Linked DNA regions of Homo sapiens: regions 1 and 2 are each linked to region 3. The links come from fine-mapping of genetic effects on gene expression. A gene starts in region 3. Each other region holds a variant in brackets. All regions are shown on one strand. Distances are between the middles of the regions. Region 1 holds the start of CEACAM4 (CEA cell adhesion molecule 4). Region 2 has its middle 12 kb from the start of LINC01480. Region 3 holds the start of CEACAM21 (CEA cell adhesion molecule 21).

What was found. PIP is the estimated chance that this variant, and not a neighbour inherited with it, causes the effect. A credible set is the group of variants that fine-mapping cannot tell apart.
Region 1: its variant is the best candidate, but not a certain one, in a credible set for the expression of CEACAM21 in whole blood (TOPMed, PIP 0.74).
Region 2: its variant is the best candidate, but not a certain one, in a credible set for the expression of CEACAM21 in whole blood (GTEx, PIP 0.64).

What each region holds. Positions count from the first base shown.
Region 1 is chr19:41,624,503-41,630,218 of GRCh38, forward strand. It overlaps CEACAM4 (CEA cell adhesion molecule 4), which reads right to left and starts at 2,572. Exons shown (of 7, transcript NM_001817.4): 1 at 2,398-2,572; 2 at 1,099-1,458. The coding sequence starts at 2,461. The variant C/G (reference allele first, on the strand shown) is at 2,397.
Region 2 is chr19:41,544,409-41,550,124 of GRCh38, forward strand. It overlaps a transcript of CEACAM21 not described here. Among named protein-coding and RNA genes, the nearest start is that of LINC01480, 12 kb to the left of the region's middle. The variant T/C (reference allele first, on the strand shown) is at 2,900.
Region 3 is chr19:41,573,867-41,579,582 of GRCh38, forward strand. It overlaps CEACAM21 (CEA cell adhesion molecule 21), which reads left to right and starts at 2,300. Exons shown (of 7, transcript NM_001098506.4): 1 at 2,300-2,472; 2 at 3,334-3,693; 3 at 5,487-5,716. The coding sequence starts at 2,409.

The DNA.
Region 1 (5,716 bases), 51 kb after region 3:
AACTGATTAATTCTGTATTTACTCATAACTCTCCAGACCAGAATCTCCCCCTCCGAGCTGTAGACACCTAAGAAGAAAACATCCGAACCAGTGGCTGTTCTGAGGTCCACAGACACCTAGTAAGGCACCAGGGATGAAGGAGAGGACGTGGCAGCAGCTGCAGACAGCCCTCATGTGACTCTGCCAGCTGCGATCTGCCCACCGTGGCCGGTGTCTGTATCTCTCTGTGCCTCAGTTTCCCCTCCATACAATATGTAAATGGAAAATGGTCTGAGGCTTGCCACTTTGTCTGTGAATGAACTTTAAATTATTCACAGGATCTGACATGAAGCTTGGCACAGAGGAGGTGTTCACATCAACAGCATCTGTTATTTGCCTCCATGGGAGAGCACCCCTGGGCATGATCCCCGGTGGACAAGAAGCTGCCAGGAACATTTTCTCCCCTCTGTTCCTACCCCTGGGCCACTGACTGCCCAAGGGCATCTCTTAAGCTCCTCATTCAGGGGGCCAATGCCCTAGTAATCCTGTCCCCCTGCCCTCTCCAGGCTGAGTCCCAGGGAAAGTGGTAGGCTCTGTCCTTGTCTAGATGAGACTCTGGGAGCTGAGCCCTCACTGATGAGAAGCTTCAGGAACCACAGCCCGCAGACATCTGGTAAATCCTTGCTCCCAGTAAGCCCTGCCCAGGAGACCACACCCCAGCCCTGACACAGGCTTCCCGGGGTCACACGGAGTCAGGAGTCCTGAGGCTGGGCTTTTGTGAGGTTCCCAGGACGCCCTCAGGCCAGGCCCTGACCCAGTTCTCCAGGGTCTTTCTCAGGGTCAGGTTCATGGGGAGGGCATGGGGTGCTTGGCTGAGACTGACCTCCCCCTGCTGAGGCCCCCCCGCCCCCGCCATCAGTGTCTGCAGGGCCTGGATGCAGGAAAGGAATTCTGATCTGTTGAAGTTTACCTACCATGTGTGTGTCCTGCACTAAATGCCCAAATCTCAACACGGGACAAAATGCAGAGGGGGATGCAGGCACAGCCCAGGCCTGACAATCTCATGTGTGTGAAGCAGAACTGACCGCCAGCACCCAGAGGTATGGGGGAATCACTCACGGTGTACGTGGAGCTGGCCAGTTGCTTGGTCAGAGTCGTAACTGGCATTTATGGTTCGTAGGGTGTAGGATCCTGCGTCCTCCAGGGTGATGTTTTGGAACAGCAGGGATCCATTGGGGTATACTGTCTCTCGACCACTGTATGCGGCCCCTGGGATATTTGCTTGAATGTCTGTTATATAACCAGCAATGAGAGGGCTCCCTTCTGCCGTTTTCCCCTTGTGCCAATAATAGGCTTGAATAGTTTCTGAAATATTGCAGGCCAGTAGAAGAACATCCTTTCCCTCTGCAGCACTGGACGGCAGGGCTTCAATAGTGAACTGGACAGTGGTGGGCGGGTGCCAGAAGGTTAAAAGTGAGGCTAGGAGGTGAAGACAGCATCAGTCAATACTGGGACCTATGGAGTGGGATGGAAAGATAAGGCCCTGGGTCCTCAGCAGGTCTCCTCATCCCTCAGCCTTGGAGTGTGTGTGTGTGTGTGTGTGTGTGTGTGTGTGTGTGTGTGTGTGTGTGTGTGTGTGTGTGTCCCTGGGTCAGCAGCATGACCCCCATTCCTTCAACAGCTTGGACCTTGGCATTTCCCTGGTGGAATCTTCTTCCCCAGGGGTCTGCACGGCTCCCTCCCCACTGCCCTCAGATCCTGCTCACATCAGGGTGTTTTTGGGAGACCCCTCCCCTGACACCTCCTCTAGAGACCCTGGGTCTTCCCTTTCTGACCTTTCCCAGCTCTGTTCCCTCCAGGGCTCTTGTCAGCACCTGACCTCACATTCTAGATCTCTTTAGGTGTTTGTCTTCCTCCCCATGAGAGCGTGAGCTCTGTGAGGGCGGGGACTTGTGTGATCTTGGTTGCACCCCAGTGCCTGGCACAGGCTGCAGACTCCTGTAGATGAGTTCATGAGCATTCTCAGGGCCTCCAAGTCCTGAGGTTTATTTCCCAGTGTCTGAGGTTGTTGGCTAAGAGCAGTGTTTTATGCCCTGGTTATGTTTTTATTTGAAGTGTCATCTGGTATAGTTATTATCATTTTTCAAAATGTAGTGGCCAGTGATGATTAACCAGGACGAGAGAACACTTGAGATTTTCCTGCCTTTTACCAATTCCAGTTCACTGAGATTTTCCTGTTGTGACCCCTGCCCCTCTCTGATGTTCTCTCCCTTATCCAGCCTCCAACAGAGGCCCTCAGTCCCCTCTCAGAGCCCCAGGAGACCCCAGCCAGAAGCCCTCTATCCCCTCCTACCCAAGAGACCCCAGTCAGTCTCTGTGCTCCCTCTTCCCACCACTCCCAGAGAGTCCTCCCCTCA[C/G]CTGTGATCAGGAGCCCCTGCCAGGGCCTGTGCCCTCCACGGGGAGCGGCTGAGGGGGGGCCCATGGTCTCTGCTGCCTGCTTGTCCTCTGTGGAGAGGAGCTGGGCTCCAGGAACGCTCTTGTCAGAGCTGCTGTGACTGTCGGCTGTCGGGGCTGCTGACCTTCCTCCTTCTGTGCTGAGCCTCCTCCCGGGCAGAAGCACTTCCCAGGGCCAGGGGCAGAGGCGGGGCTCTTCCCAGGTCACCCCTCTGCCCCTCCCCTCTCATTTCTGCCTTTTTTGTCCCTCCTTCCCCTTTCTCTTCTGTGTACATTACAGTTTCCTAACCACACTTTGAGAAGCAGGGTTGGTGGAGTCCCCTGTCCCCAGAGAGGGTGACTTGTCACCCCTGCACTGACCCTTTGGGAATGTCACCACAAACAGAGGTACTCTGGGGTCTCCCAAACTTGGGGAACTGTTTCCTTTTGTGACACAGAGACCCAGCTGGGCCCCCAGGTCTCCTCATGCTCCCCAATACTCAGGGAGTGTGAGATGATACCCAGCAGGAAGGTGACAGAGGTGGCTCTGTGGGATAGAAAATGGGGGGCGACTACGGGGGGGACCAGTCCTCTCTCTCCAGTGTCACCAGCCTTGCCTCTGACCCAGGGACAGAGATCCAGGCCTGGGGGTCTCAGGAGGATCCCCAGCTCCTGGATGTGGAGGGAGGTGTCCTGCATGTCCTGGGAAGAGAGGACTGTGGTGGAGGGAGGTGGGTGGCTCTGGGTTCTGCTGTCCTTGAGGAGGGATTCAGGGAGATCCTCCCTCTCCGTTTCTGTTGGCTGAGCTGTGGCTTAGGGCCTGTGCATGTTCTCCCTTACCATCCCGGGTGGCCTCTGTCCTCTGTGAAGGTGATTGTCCTGTTGTCACTGTACCTTCCCCATGCATGATACCAGGAGAAAGTGGAGAACTGAGCAGAGAATCCTGGCAGAGCAGGATCCTCAGAGGCTCCAGGAAGGATCAGGAGAGACAGAGCAGGCACATGGGAGGGACTGGAAGGGCCTGCTGGAGCAAAGTATGGAAACCAGGCTTCACCTCCACCTCCTTAGCAAAGCCAGATTCCTGTCCAGGGGAATCCATTTCCTGTGTTGTCTGCGTGCAATGTTGCCCCTGGAGAGCAAGAGGAACCCTGTGGTAAAAGTCAGGGGCTTCCCCAGGGATGCTGACCAGGGTCCACGTGGTATGAGTTGGCCCTGGCCCCTGGGCAGAGGTGGGCTCTGACCTCCAGACTGCAGGGTCAGGTCATCCTTGGTCCTGTTCACTGTGGGTCCCCAGGATGTCCAACTCCATGCAGTGCAGGATGAGCTCAGGGAGAGGACGAGAGTTGTCCAGAGCACTCCTGGTCCTGATTTGGGAGAACTGTCCTGCAGGCGGATGGGCTGCCTCAGAAAGAGCCATCCGTCCCCAAGGTTTCAAAAGAAGGGCCCAGGGAGGTGTCTCTGGGGGTTTAGAGAGAGGGCACTGGCCTGGGAGGTGGTCCTCGGTGTGTTCTGTGTTCCTCCATCACAACACTGGGAGTTCCGCCTCCAGGTCATCTGTGTCCCTGTCTGTCACCTGCCCCAGGCCTCTCCACAGGGCCCAGGAGCTGGGGCAGCTCCTACCTGCAGGCTGCAAGGGATACCTGGTTCCTGTATTAGAGCAGGGGAGGCCCCGTGACCCTCAGTCCCTCTGAGATGGAAACAAAGGCAGATCCTGGGTTATCCTGTCCCCTCCTGCAGGAGAAGTTCCCCTGGATCCCCTGGTGAAATGTCTGCAGGGACCATAGGCAGATGTCCCAAATACTGGGGATCTCGAGGCTGGGGAATCACTCCCTGACTTTCTTGTGGTCATTCTGCCCTGGTGGAAGATCCACCTGGGATCGAATATCCGGAGTTTGTGTCAGTTTTGGTGTGTTTGTGAGAAAGACATATGTTAGAGCCTGGAGGGAATGTCAGTGAATGATGTCAGGGAATGAATTGGGTTTGCCCCTCACTGTTAGAAAGACCCTGAATTCCCTCCCGATGCTACTAGGGTAAAAGCCATGTTCTTATGCTCATTTCTCTAAGGAAATGCAAATAGAGTTTATTAAGGCGTTTCTGGCCAACTAAGGTGGATTTTGTCATGTAGACACAATATAGACCATAATACATGTACATATGCAAAAACACACCTAAACACATATCCACAAACAAATAAAAATCTTACAGCTTTCATTTTAGAATTTTAGTGATGAGATAGTAATACAAACTCACTAGTTGATTAAAGTCAACTGGATCCAATTGTATTTCTGACAAATTGGAATCGTTAACATGGATAAACTTTATTTGCCCCTATAGGTAATATAATGAAGGCTGGGGGAAATATTTTGGGTAAAGCAGTTTCTAATGGCAGTGTAACTTATAAACAAATAAACAAATGAAACCTCTACAGTTTCAGCATCTTTTTTTTTTCTGTTTCACATGAGTTTAGGATTAAATTTTCAATTGCTTACACTTTAGCTAGAACTGGCTGAATTGTATAAGAAAAAAAAATCTCCAACTAGCCTTAAACTAGATTTTTTGTGTGGGTTGGAGGGGGGCGGGTGGTGGTGATGTGGTTTGCTTGATTAACAAATGTGGATGAGGAAGGATTTTAGCTTTTTTTCCTGGCTTTTTCTTTTTTGCCTCTGCATGGCAAAAGAAGAAAAAAGTTTATGTCGGACAGAGACACCTTAAATTATTGCTCTGAGTTCAAGATTTTGACCTGTATGATCTGAGAGCCTAACTTTTATAACCATGTATTTTTTTAATTATTGATTTTTAATTGTGCTCCATTATAAGCAATTATTAGTTAGACAAACTTAAATTTACATTTCCTAAAGGTGTCTAAGTTGTTTCTTATCATGGAGTTGTTTAATTTGTAAAGCCATTAATTTTAAAGCCCTTCAAGATTTCTTTTTTAAAACTCTGGGCTAGAATGCCATAAGCAGTGAGTTTTATCTCAACACCAGTAGAAAAGTCAGCAGATTCAAAGTAGGTAGAGAAAAAAAAATAGAGAATTTAGAAGACTCTACATTTCCACCCTATAGATGCAGGGCTTTTTAAAACAGGTTGAATGATGATCATTGAGTACTGAATTTTCCTTGATGTAATTTTGCTCATAAACTTTAAAATGTGCACAAGAAAGAACCATAAAATGTAGCCAGCTGGAGCCCCAGAAAACCTGGCATGCCTTAATGCTTGAGAGCCCCATTCCATTTCTTATTAATCTCTTGAAAGTGAAGAAAATTTTACAAATCCTGCCAGAGAATGTCAGGCATTTGTACCA
Region 2 (5,716 bases), 29 kb before region 3:
GGTGTTGAGTCTTGGGGGGTGTTTGAGAAGCTCCTGCCTCAGGAGTGGAAGCTCTGGGGGAAGTAAAGACAATCCTGGGTGCCTCAATGGGGCATTTCCTAATTTCAGAGAAATCAAACCAAAAACAGTGAGGAAATGGACTCCTTGAAGACTGTGGTCCATGAATATATGTAGGGAAAGGAAAGAGAGATCAGACTGTCACTGTGTCCATGTAGAAAGGAAAGACATAAGAGACTCCATTTTGAAAAAGACCTGTACTTTGAACAATGGCTTTGCTGAGATGTTGTTAATTTGTAGCTTTGCCCCAGCCACTTTGACCCAGCCACTTTGACCCAACTTGGAGCTCACAAAAACATGTGTTGTATGAAATCAAGGTTTAAGGGACCTAGGGCTGTGCAGGATGTGCCTTGTTAACAAAATATTTACAAGCAGTATACTTGGTAAAGGTCATTGCCATTCTCTAGTCTCAATAAACCAGGGGCACAATACACTGTGGAAAGCCGCAGGGACCTCTGCCCTTGAAAGCGGGGTATTGTCCAAGGTTTCTCCCCATGTGATAGTCTGAAATATGGCCTCATGGGATGAGAAGGACCTGACTGTCCCCCAGCCCAACACCCATAAAGGGTCTGTGCTGAGGTGGATTAGTAAAAGAGGAAAGCCTCTTGCAGTCGAGATGGAGGAAGGCCACTGTCTCCTGCTTGCCCCTCAGAACTGAATGTCTCGGTGTAAAACCCAATTGTACATTTGTTCAACTCTGAGATAGGAGAAAAGCTGCCCTGTGGCGGGAGGTGAGACATGTTTGCAGTAATACTGCCTTGTTATTCTTTACTCCACTGAGATGTTTGGGTGGAGAGAAACATAAATCTGGCCTGAGTGCACGTCCAGGCATAGTACTTTCCCTTGAACTTAATTATGATATAGATTCTTTTGCTCACATGTTTTTCATTGACCTTCTCCTTATTATCACCCTGCTCTCCTACTACATTCCTTTTTGCTGAAATAATGAAAATAATAATCAATAAAAACTGAGGAAACTCAGAGGCCGGTGCCGGTGCAGGCCCTTGGTGTGCTGAGTGCTGGTCCCCTGGACCCACTGTTGTTTCTTTATACTTTGTCTCTGTGTCTTATTTCTTTTCTCTGTCTCTCCTCCCACCCAACTAGAAATACCCACAGGTGTGGAGAGGCAGGCCACCCCTTCAAATATATAGGACCCAGAACCAGTCCATTGGGGAGGAAGCTTTCAAGGGACACATTTTGGCTGGGAAGGAGGACAGTGAAGCTCTCCAGCCAGGGAGGACGCCTGGCAGTCACAGTGATCTCGGAGGGGCCCTGCACACTTCCACCACTTCCGGTTCCTCGATTCCTCTCCACCACACCCATTTTCTGAGTTCTCCTGGGCACCAGGCACTGGAAGCCGTTCCTGCTCTCATTCCTCACCCCCCTTTTCTTCATTCTTCAGGGCACGACATTCTCCAACATGTTCACATCCCTCAATTTTCCTTCCCCACCTGTCTGGAGTCTGAAGCTCCAGGCACTGCAAGGATGTGAGTTGGGGACCTGTTTGTTCTCCCCGTTTTACTGGATCTTTCAGGGTCTCCATTGTCCAACTTACTAGGAGCCCTGAATGCTTGCCGACTCTACCCCATCTGCTCCATTCTGTGGGCTGTGTCCTCTCTCAAACCTCCCAGGTCTTTCAGGCCCAGGCCCCCTCCTCCACTTGCTTGTGCCCAGGCTCCTACCCAGCCTCTGCTAGGATCCAGTATTGTCAACAATAAATAGATCTCCTTGGAATCAGGGTAACTGGCAAGCTCGGTTGAAGGACGTATGAGAGGATGGAGGTGGAGAGTTCACTCTCCCAAAGTGCCCCTCACACACACACGCAATGGGGACAATGCCAGAGCCTGACCTTATTTCACAGCAAGCTGCCCAAATCTCACCTTGCTCAGTGCTGGACACTGAAAACACTGACCCTCCCAGTGAAAGCTGCTCTCCTCTGTTCTTAGTCCCCACGCCAGGCCACTCTGCATTCTGTACCCTTCCCCCAGGCTGGTGTCCCAGACCGTACTTTACCCAGAGAGCCCTGCCCTCAAACTCACTTCCTCTCCGGACAGGCTTTCTGCCTTAAGCTGCGCTTCTTCCTCGGTGGTAGCAGGAGGCCTTCCTCTCCCTCCTCCCTCTATGATTTCTTGCACCTAAATGAATCTAACCTTGCTCTCACCTTTGTCCCTTGTGCCCTAACTTCTGTTGACACCTTCATCTGGTGCCCCTGACATAACCCTGGGGCTCCTGAGCCCTGGGACATTTGTATCTAGACAACCACGAGCCTAACACCCTAAACAGACACAGGCATAGACACACACACACACACACACACACACACACCCAGCACCAAAGCTGCTCCTACCCCAGTCACACTGGAATTAGATGAAAACCCCAGGCTTTGGACTCCTTGGCTGTGAGGGTCTTCCTGGAAAGAGCCAGGTCCAGCTGCATTTTCTCATACCCTGAAATCGCACCACTACACCCCAGCCTGAGCAACAGAGCCAGACTCCATCATTTAAAAAAAAAAAAAAAGTACCCAAAAGAGTTCCAGAATAAGATAAAAATGGTTTACATACAATCTCGCTATCTGGGAATATAAAGTGCAGTTACTAAAAGCAGGGAATCTCTTTCCTGAAACTATTTCTAACTCTGTGAGGAGCTGCTAGATTCTACAGTGCCTGACAGACAGCTCTCAAGGGCCGTTTGGCTTGTGAATGGCATTTCCAAGGCAAACATCTTGTTTGAAAGCTGCTGCTCTGGTTAAAGAAGGGTCATGAAAGTCTTTTTTTTTTTCCAGTTATTTGGGTGAAGTATGTTTTTGCGAGCAAATTTACCTTTCCCTCTGCGTTCTCCACAT[T/C]TTGGGTTGTGATTTTATGACAATATAGTTTGTATATTCAACTTATACATATTTATAGTGTTCAGTAAGAGCCTTTTAAAATAAAACAATTGAACACATTGGTTATTTTCACAAGACTCTAACCAAAATAGTATATTTTTAGGTAAAAACCCAGGAAAATTAACTCAAAAGTAGCCTATATGGCCGATGAATTCTTGCTGCATTTTATGCAAATTATCAGGCCAAGTGTAATAAGCCTAAAATTGATTTTGCACACAAATTGGTCTTACTGTAATTTCTCTTTAATAGGAAAAATAGGGGGCTACAGACCAACCAGGATCTTCATGAGGACCAGTGAGCACAGGAGTAGGAAAGGGGTCACTAGCATCACTGAGATGCAGGTGGTGGCCATTCCTCATAGAAAACGAGATTTTTGGGGAACCTCCCATAGTGCTGAGCTCCATAGTGCCCACGGGGATGACAGAATCTGAGAATGGCTGGGACCAGGACTTTTGTCATCAAAAGCCAGCTGGAGGGTATAGGCAGTAAAATTGGAATGCAGCAAAGGGAGGCTGACCTGCAAAGCACTAGGAGGGATCTCATAAAACCTGTTACCCTTAGAGGCAAGACAGGTGGAAAAAGAGTAAGTATGTCACTTAGTAGACATAATCAAGAGGAGCAGAAAGCCAAGGTCAGCTGTCCGCCATAGAATGTCATGATCCCTTGCTCAGTGAAGACCTGAGACAGTCCTCACACCACTATATGTTTTTCTTTTTATAACCTTTATTAAAATACAGTTTATTTTTTCATTTACTTGGCACATTTGTATAATTGTGAAATTGTTTTCTTAGTAGTTTTAGTTACATATACTCAGTATAATGTTAGCTTTTAGGAACCCCTCTTTAGTAAAAATAAAACAAAAACGTAAGCAATTTTAATTGGTAGGAGTTGCAGAGCCCACAGCAAAGGACAGAGCTGTGGAAAATGTCTGACTCTTCCCAGCACGGAGTCGGGCCGTGGCTCCTTTCACATGTCCCCAGACCTCAGCTAGAATTGAATGCTCTAAAACAGACAGGCCAGATGATTATTTAAAATGTTTTGGAAACAGTTTTTGACCTGCAAATATTTAGTAATGGCAATATTTCACATGTCTCATGTGGACAAAATGTCTACATTGTGAAGATATTTTTCTTTTACTTTACTAATAATTTTTAAAACTGACTTTATTGTTTTAAGTTTTGTAAAGTCACATGAACTAAAAGGCAATTGAGTTAACGTTTCAATTTTTCTGATAAAGACTTGATTGAAGTGTTTATTTTTAAGCCAATGAATGAGAGATTTATCATATATTTTGAAGTGAAACGCTATATACACATGACTCATCTAAATATACAGACTGAGGTCAATTTTATAGATTTAGAACTTTTTTTATTTGTTGGGCTTTTAATATTTTTTAAAAGCTTTACATCCTTTATTTTTGATAATTTGTGATTTCCCTGGTGCAATTATTTGGAGCCCACAGCAGTTGGGATCTGTGTATGCAGCAGAGGGTGCCCCTCCAAGCCTCTGGCTCTCTAAGGCCTCCTTCCATTTCAAGGGTAATTAAAATAAGGCTGATTGTTAGGGATTCTGGTGTGATGAACCCCAGCCCTCTCCCACTTCTGGGGGCTAAGTGTTTACATGCCATCGCCCTTTGTTCCCCTACTGGGCCTCACATCACCTTCTTCCTCTTCTGGACTCAAATCTCTCTCTGCTTCCCCTTCCTAAGGACACTTGGGATTTCACGAGGGTCTAGCTAGATAAGCCGGGAGAACCTCCCACTGTTAAGATAATTAACTTCCTCACATTCACAAAAGCTCCTTTGCCACAGAAAGTCACTCTCACAGGCTACAGGTCATAGTTCGCAGTTACAGGAACTTGAAAATATTCTGCCTTCAAGTCCACCAGCTTTTGTAAAAAGCATCTGTTTCCTGTCCTGTGTAGTTGAGCACACTAAAGTCTTGTTCCCTTAGTCATTCCTCCTTCTGCTGCCCCTGTGGGGAGGGTCTTGCTGCCTGTACCCACCTCTGACATTTGCACTCTTAGACAACATAGCCGCTAATTTGTTGGAAAGGCGTTAAATTAAAAAAAAAAAAGTGCTATTTACCGCCTCCCTCTTTGACAGAAGACTGTCTGTCAAAGTAACCCCGCCCCAAGTGACTTTTTAAGGGGTGGCTCACCAGGAGGGAGTCAGAGCAGAACTTGGACTGAGTCCTGCAGGACACAGGTATTAGCTTTTCTCTTTTATTTGCTTTATGTTTCATTTACTTCTTTGGATCGAATAGCTCCAATTGTATTGCTGTTATTTGGTTTTTCATTTTGTTGTTGGGTTTTTTGATGTGGTGTTTTTTTGTTTTGTTTTGTTTCTTTTTGTCTTTTTAGAAAGAGGGTTTCCCTCTATTGCCCTGGCTGGAGTACAGTGGTGGAATCACTGTTCACTACAGCCTCCAACTTATTCCTGGGCTCAAGCAATCCTTCTGTCTCCATCTCCTGAGCAGCTGGGACTCTAGGCATTTGCCACCGTGCCCAATTTTTTTTTAATTCCTTTTTAAAAATATTTTAATCCTTTCCGGAAAAAAATATGTTTTCCATGGACTTGCTTATTTCCTTTATACAGTCCATTGTCGTTGAATTCTTATTTGAATTTGTGATACACCCTCTCATAGGGAACATAACAAATTTCCTCCCACAGCAATTAATGACGAGTGCGATGAGAAGCATAATGACAATGATTAACTTGATAATTAAAAATCTAATCAACCAACTGTTGATGATTGTACTAAACAAAATAATTTCATT
Region 3 (5,716 bases):
TCTTTTTTAAAAGTCACCCCAGAATGGCCAAAACAATCTGGAAAAAAAAATTGGAGGACTCACTTCCTAATTTGAAAACTTACTAAAACACTACAATCATTAAAACAGTGTGCTTCTGGCACAAGAATGCACATAGAGATCAATGGAATAGAATCAAGAGTCCAGAAATAAACCCTCACCATTACAGCCCATTGGTTTTTGACATGGGTGCCAAGATTCCTCAATGGGGAAAGAATGGTAGCCTCTTCATATTGTGCTGGAACAACTGGATAACCACATGCGAGATAGTGTAGTTAGACCCCTACCTCACAGCCCATACAAAAGTTAACTCAAAATGTTTCAAAAACCTAAATGGAATAGCAAAACTTATCAAACCATTAGAAGAACATATAGGAGTAAAACTTAATGATCTTGGATTGGGCAATGGTTTCTTCAATATGACATCAAGAGCATAAGTAACAAAATTAAAAATAGATAAGTGAACTTCATCAAAGTTAAAAATGTTTGTGCTTCAAAGAACACCATGAAGAAAGTGAGAAGACACAGAATATGAGAAAAATTTTGCAAATCATGTACCCCATAAGGGACTTGTATCTAAAATATATAAAGAACTATTACAACTGAATAATAAAAAGATAACCCATTTTTTTTAAACAGCAAATGATTTGAATAAATAGTTCTCTAAAAAATATTAAAATTGTCAGCAAATACATGAAAAAATGCTCAACTTCATCAGCCACCAGGGAAATGAAAATCAAAACTGCAATGAGCTATCACTTCACACCTACTAGAATGGCTATAAGTTTTAAAAAATATTAAATAGTAAGTGTTTACAAGAATGTAGAGAAAATGGAACCCTCGTATATTGCTGATGGGAATATAAAATAGCACAGCAAACTGGAAAACAGTTTGGCTGTTTCTCAAAAACTTAAACATAGAACTACCACATGACCCCATATTTATACTCCTATATGTACCCCCAAAGAAATGAACACAGAAACCCAAACAGATACTTCCAAGTGTAAGTTCATTGCAGCGGTTTTCACAATAGCAAAAATGTGGAAACCACCCACATGTCCATTAAGAGATGAATGAATTAAAATTGAGGTATAAACATATATTGGGATATTACTCAGCCATAAATAGGAAAGAAGCTGTAATATATGCTACGACGTGGATGAATCTTAAAAGTGTTACCCTAAGAGAAATAATCCAGAAAAAAATAATACACGTATATAATTCCTTATTATATGAGACATGTAAACTAGGCAAATTCACAGAGATTGATAGTATCAGAGGCTACCAGTGGGTGGGGCAGGGGGAAGTGGGGAGTTATTGATTAAAAGTATGAAGTTTCCATTTGGTATAATGAAGATTTTCTGGTAAAAAATTATGGTGATGGTTGTACAACATTGTGAATAGAATTAGTATCATTTAATTCTACACTTAAAATTGCTAATTCAGTACATTTATCTTATGTATTATACCATATCTAAAGAGATCTTTGGGAAACAAACACTCGCCCTGATCAGATAGTCCTCATACTCATGTACACACCCTTCCTGACCTTCTGTAAAAAGGGATACAAAGATTTAGGGACATGAGACAGTTCAGGCAACTGCAGATCCACAAAATATATGTATTTGCAAAGAGAATGAGAGTTAAGCTGGGGGCACAGACCCCAGACACGGAGAGGGTCCCCCTGAAACCTTCACCAAGGACAGCAGAACCCAGAGCCTCCCACCTCCTTCCATCAAAGTCCTCTCTTCCCAGGACACACAGGACACCTCCCTCCACACCTAGGAGCTGGGGATCCTCCCGAGACCTCCAGGCCTGGGTCTCTGTCCCTGGGTCAGAGGCCAGGCTGGTGACACTGAAGATAGCGGGTGGGTCCTTCCCAGCCATCACCCAGTGAGCCCCTTTCTAGCCCCCAGAGCCACCTCTGTCACTTTCCTGCTGGGCATCATTCTGCCTTCCTGGAGCACTGGAGAGCATGAGGAGACCCAGGGCCCAGCTGGTTTTGTGTGTCACAAAGGGAAATAATCTACCGGCTGTGACAGAACCAAGGCCAGAACACAGCAGAGGTCAGTACTGGGGAGAGTGGGTCGTCCTGTTATGAGGACCCCATCAGCGTTGCTTCTCAAAGTTTTGCCTAGGGAACCAAATATAGGCAAAAAGGAAGGAGAAAGGAGGGACAAGGGAGGCAGGACTGAGAGGGGAGGGGACAGAGAGACATTGTAGGCAGAGCCCCGCCCTTGCCCATAAACGGGAAGTGCTCCTGCCTGAGAGGAAGCTCAGCATAGAGGAAGGAAGGACAGCAGAGACAACAGTCACAGTAACCCTGTCTAGAGCGTTCCTGGAGCCCAAGCTCCTCTCCACAGAGGAGGACAGAGCAGGCAGCAGAGACCATGGGGCCCCCCTCAGCTTGTCCCCACAGAGAATGCATCCCCTGGCAGGGGCTCTTGCTCACAGGTGAGGGGAGGACTCCCTGGGAGTGGGTGGGAGGAGGGAGCACAGAGACTGGCTGGGGTCTCCTGGGGAGGATGGGGCTCTGAGAGGAGACAGAGGGCTTTTGTTAGAGACTCAGGGGAGAGAGCGTCTAAGGAGAACCAAAAAATCTAAGTGAACTGGAATTGCCAAGGGGCAAAACAATCTCAGTTGGTCCATGTTTTCAAGTTCATTGTCAGTGGCCACTACACTTTGAAAATGATAGTAAAACTATATCACAGTGACAATTTAAATAAAAACACCACCAGGGCATGAAACTCTGTCTTCATCTGCCAACCTCAGACATTAGCAAATAAACCCCAGGATATGGAAGGCCCTGGGAACGCTCATGAACTCATCCACAGGAGTCTGCAGCCTGTCCCAGGCACTGGGGTGCAACTAACATCACTCAAGTCCATGCCCTCACAGAGCTCACAATCTCATGGGGGGGAAGACAGACACCCAAAGAGATCTAGAATGTGAGGTCAGGTGCTGACAAGAGCCCTGGAGGGAACAGAGCTGGGAAAGGTCAGAAAGGGAAGACCCAGGGTCTCTAGAGGAGGCTTCACGAAAGAAGTCTCCCAGGGATTCCCTTGTGTGAGTAGGAACTGAAGGCAGTGGGGAGGGAACCATGCAGACCCCTGGGAAAGAGGGTTCACACAAGGAAATGCCAAGGTCAGAGGTACTGAAGGAATGAGGGTCATGCTGCTGACTTTGACCCAGTAGGACACACACACACACACACACCCTCTAAGGCTGAGGGGTGAAGAGACCTGCACCCAGGACCCCGTCTTTCCATGCCAATGCATAGGTCAAATATTGACTGATATTCTCTCCCTTTCCTAGCCTCACTTTTAACTTTCTGGAACGCACCCACCACTGCCTGGCTCTTTATTGCATCAGCGCCCTTTGAAGTTGCTGAAGGGGAGAATGTTCATCTCTCTGTGGTTTATCTGCCCGAGAATCTTTACAGCTATGGCTGGTACAAAGGGAAAACGGTGGAGCCCAACCAGCTAATCGCAGCATATGTAATAGACACTCACGTTAGGACTCCAGGGCCTGCATACAGCGGTCGAGAGACAATATCACCCAGTGGAGATCTGCATTTCCAGAACGTCACCCTAGAGGACACGGGATACTACAACCTACAAGTCACATACAGAAATTCTCAGATTGAACAGGCATCTCACCATCTCCGTGTATACGGTGAGTGATTCCTCCGTGCCTCTGGGTGTTGGGGGTCAGTTCTGCTTCACATACGCAGGATTGTCAGGCCTGGGCTGTGCCTGCATCCCCCTCTGCATTACGTCCCATGTTGGGGTTTGGGCATTTAGTGCAGGACACACCCAGGGGAGACAAACTATAACAGATCAGAATTCCTTTCCCTTATCCGGACTCCGTGGAAATTCCCTACAGCAAGAAGGATAGTCTGATGCGGGAGATGCAGCGGGGGAAAATCAGTCTCAGTCCAACCCCCCTTGGCCTCCTCCTCATAGACATGACCTGAGAAAGATCTTATAGGACTCAGTCAGGGCCTGGCCTGAGGATCCTCTGAGAGAAGCTCAGCCCTTGAAGCCCCTGCCCCAGGCCCCTGTCCCAAGATCCTGACTCCAGATGACCCTGGGGAGCCTGTGCCAGGGCTGGGTTGTGGCTTCCTGGGCAGGGCTGATTGTGAGCAAGGATTTACCAGCTGTCCCAGGGCCGTGGTTCCTAGAGCTGGTCACCAGGCAGGGCTCAGCCCCCAGAGCCCCATCTGGGCAAGGGCAGAGCCTCATCTTTCACCTGAGAGTCAGAGTGGAGAGGACAGACAAACAAACTTCCCAGGCCATTAAACTGGATGGGAAACTTAAAAGATGTCCCGGGAAGTGCACTGTCCTCAGGAGGAGGGAAAGCAGAGAAAAGACACTCTGGACCGCTCCTTCTCCACCAGGAATCAGGCCCAGAGAACTCTTTTTTTTTTTTTTTGGAGTAAAATAATAATAGATGATGTTTATTTGGAGCTATTCTGTGCCAAGCTTTAGGTCAGGTAATTGTAAATATTTTAATGTTAATTTACAGAGAGGATGGCAAGCCAGGGACCATTGACATGTACCCCATTTTATTAAAGAGAAATTGCATCAGCATCACACAGGCTGTCAGTGCTCAACGTCACACCACCGTGTGTCTGCAGCCCAGAATCTGGTCGTGGCCACCACCGTGGGGCATCTGTGGACCCCAGGACCAGATGTTGGTTCAGCTCCTTTCTTCTTGGGCATCCTCAGCTCAGAGAGGGAGATTCTGGTCTGAGGAATGACGGGCAAATGGAGAATTAGTCAGTTTTTACTTAGAACGAAATCACCTGTCTCAACTATCAGACTCAATGCCAGGATTGTCCAAGCCTCTCCCATCAGATCCACATTCCTTCCCTCACTGGACGTGAAATCATGAATTTCTTGATTTGTTGATGTCACTCCCATGGGAGGATGAAGGAAAGGACTCAGCTTTCTCTTCCCACTACACCCTGTACCTGCACAAGGCCCAACTGAGACACACACTCAGTAGTTCTCTGATGAAGGAGGGAGGGAATTAATGAAAAAAGAAAGGAATAATCATAACCTCTTTACAGACTGGGTCCTGGATGTAGGATCCTAGGAGGAGCTGGCCACACCTCTTCCTTGTCCCTTAGGGGCTGAGACCCATGTTCCATTTCTCTGACTGCCTGCTCCTAAAGCCACCCCAGGTATTGCATCTCATGTGACTCTGGGGCCGCTCATCTGTGGGAGGGTTTTCAGGGCTCCCTGGTCCTGGTCTGAGGCAGCTGGGTCCTCCTGGTCCCTGGGGTCTCTGAGGTCACTGTAGTCCCTACTGCTCGCTGCTATGGGTGTCTCTGGTTCTCTCTGCTCCTCCCTGTCCTTCATCTTTCTCCTTTATTCACAGGAGAATGTTCTAAATTTGACTCTGAGATCTCTGAGGATGCAGCATGGCCCCAAGACACTTTCTGTTGGTCACTCTATCCACAGAGTCAGTGGCTCAGCCCTCCATCCAAGCCAGCAGCACCACAGTCACAGAGAAGGGCTCCGTGGTCCTGACCTGCCACACAAATAACACTGGAACCTCTTTCCAGTGGATTTTCAACAACCAGCGTCTGCAGGTCACGAAGAGGATGAAGCTGTCCTGGTTTAACCATGTGCTCACCATAGACCCCATCAGGCAGGAGGACGCTGGGGAGTATCAGTGTGAGGTCTCCAAC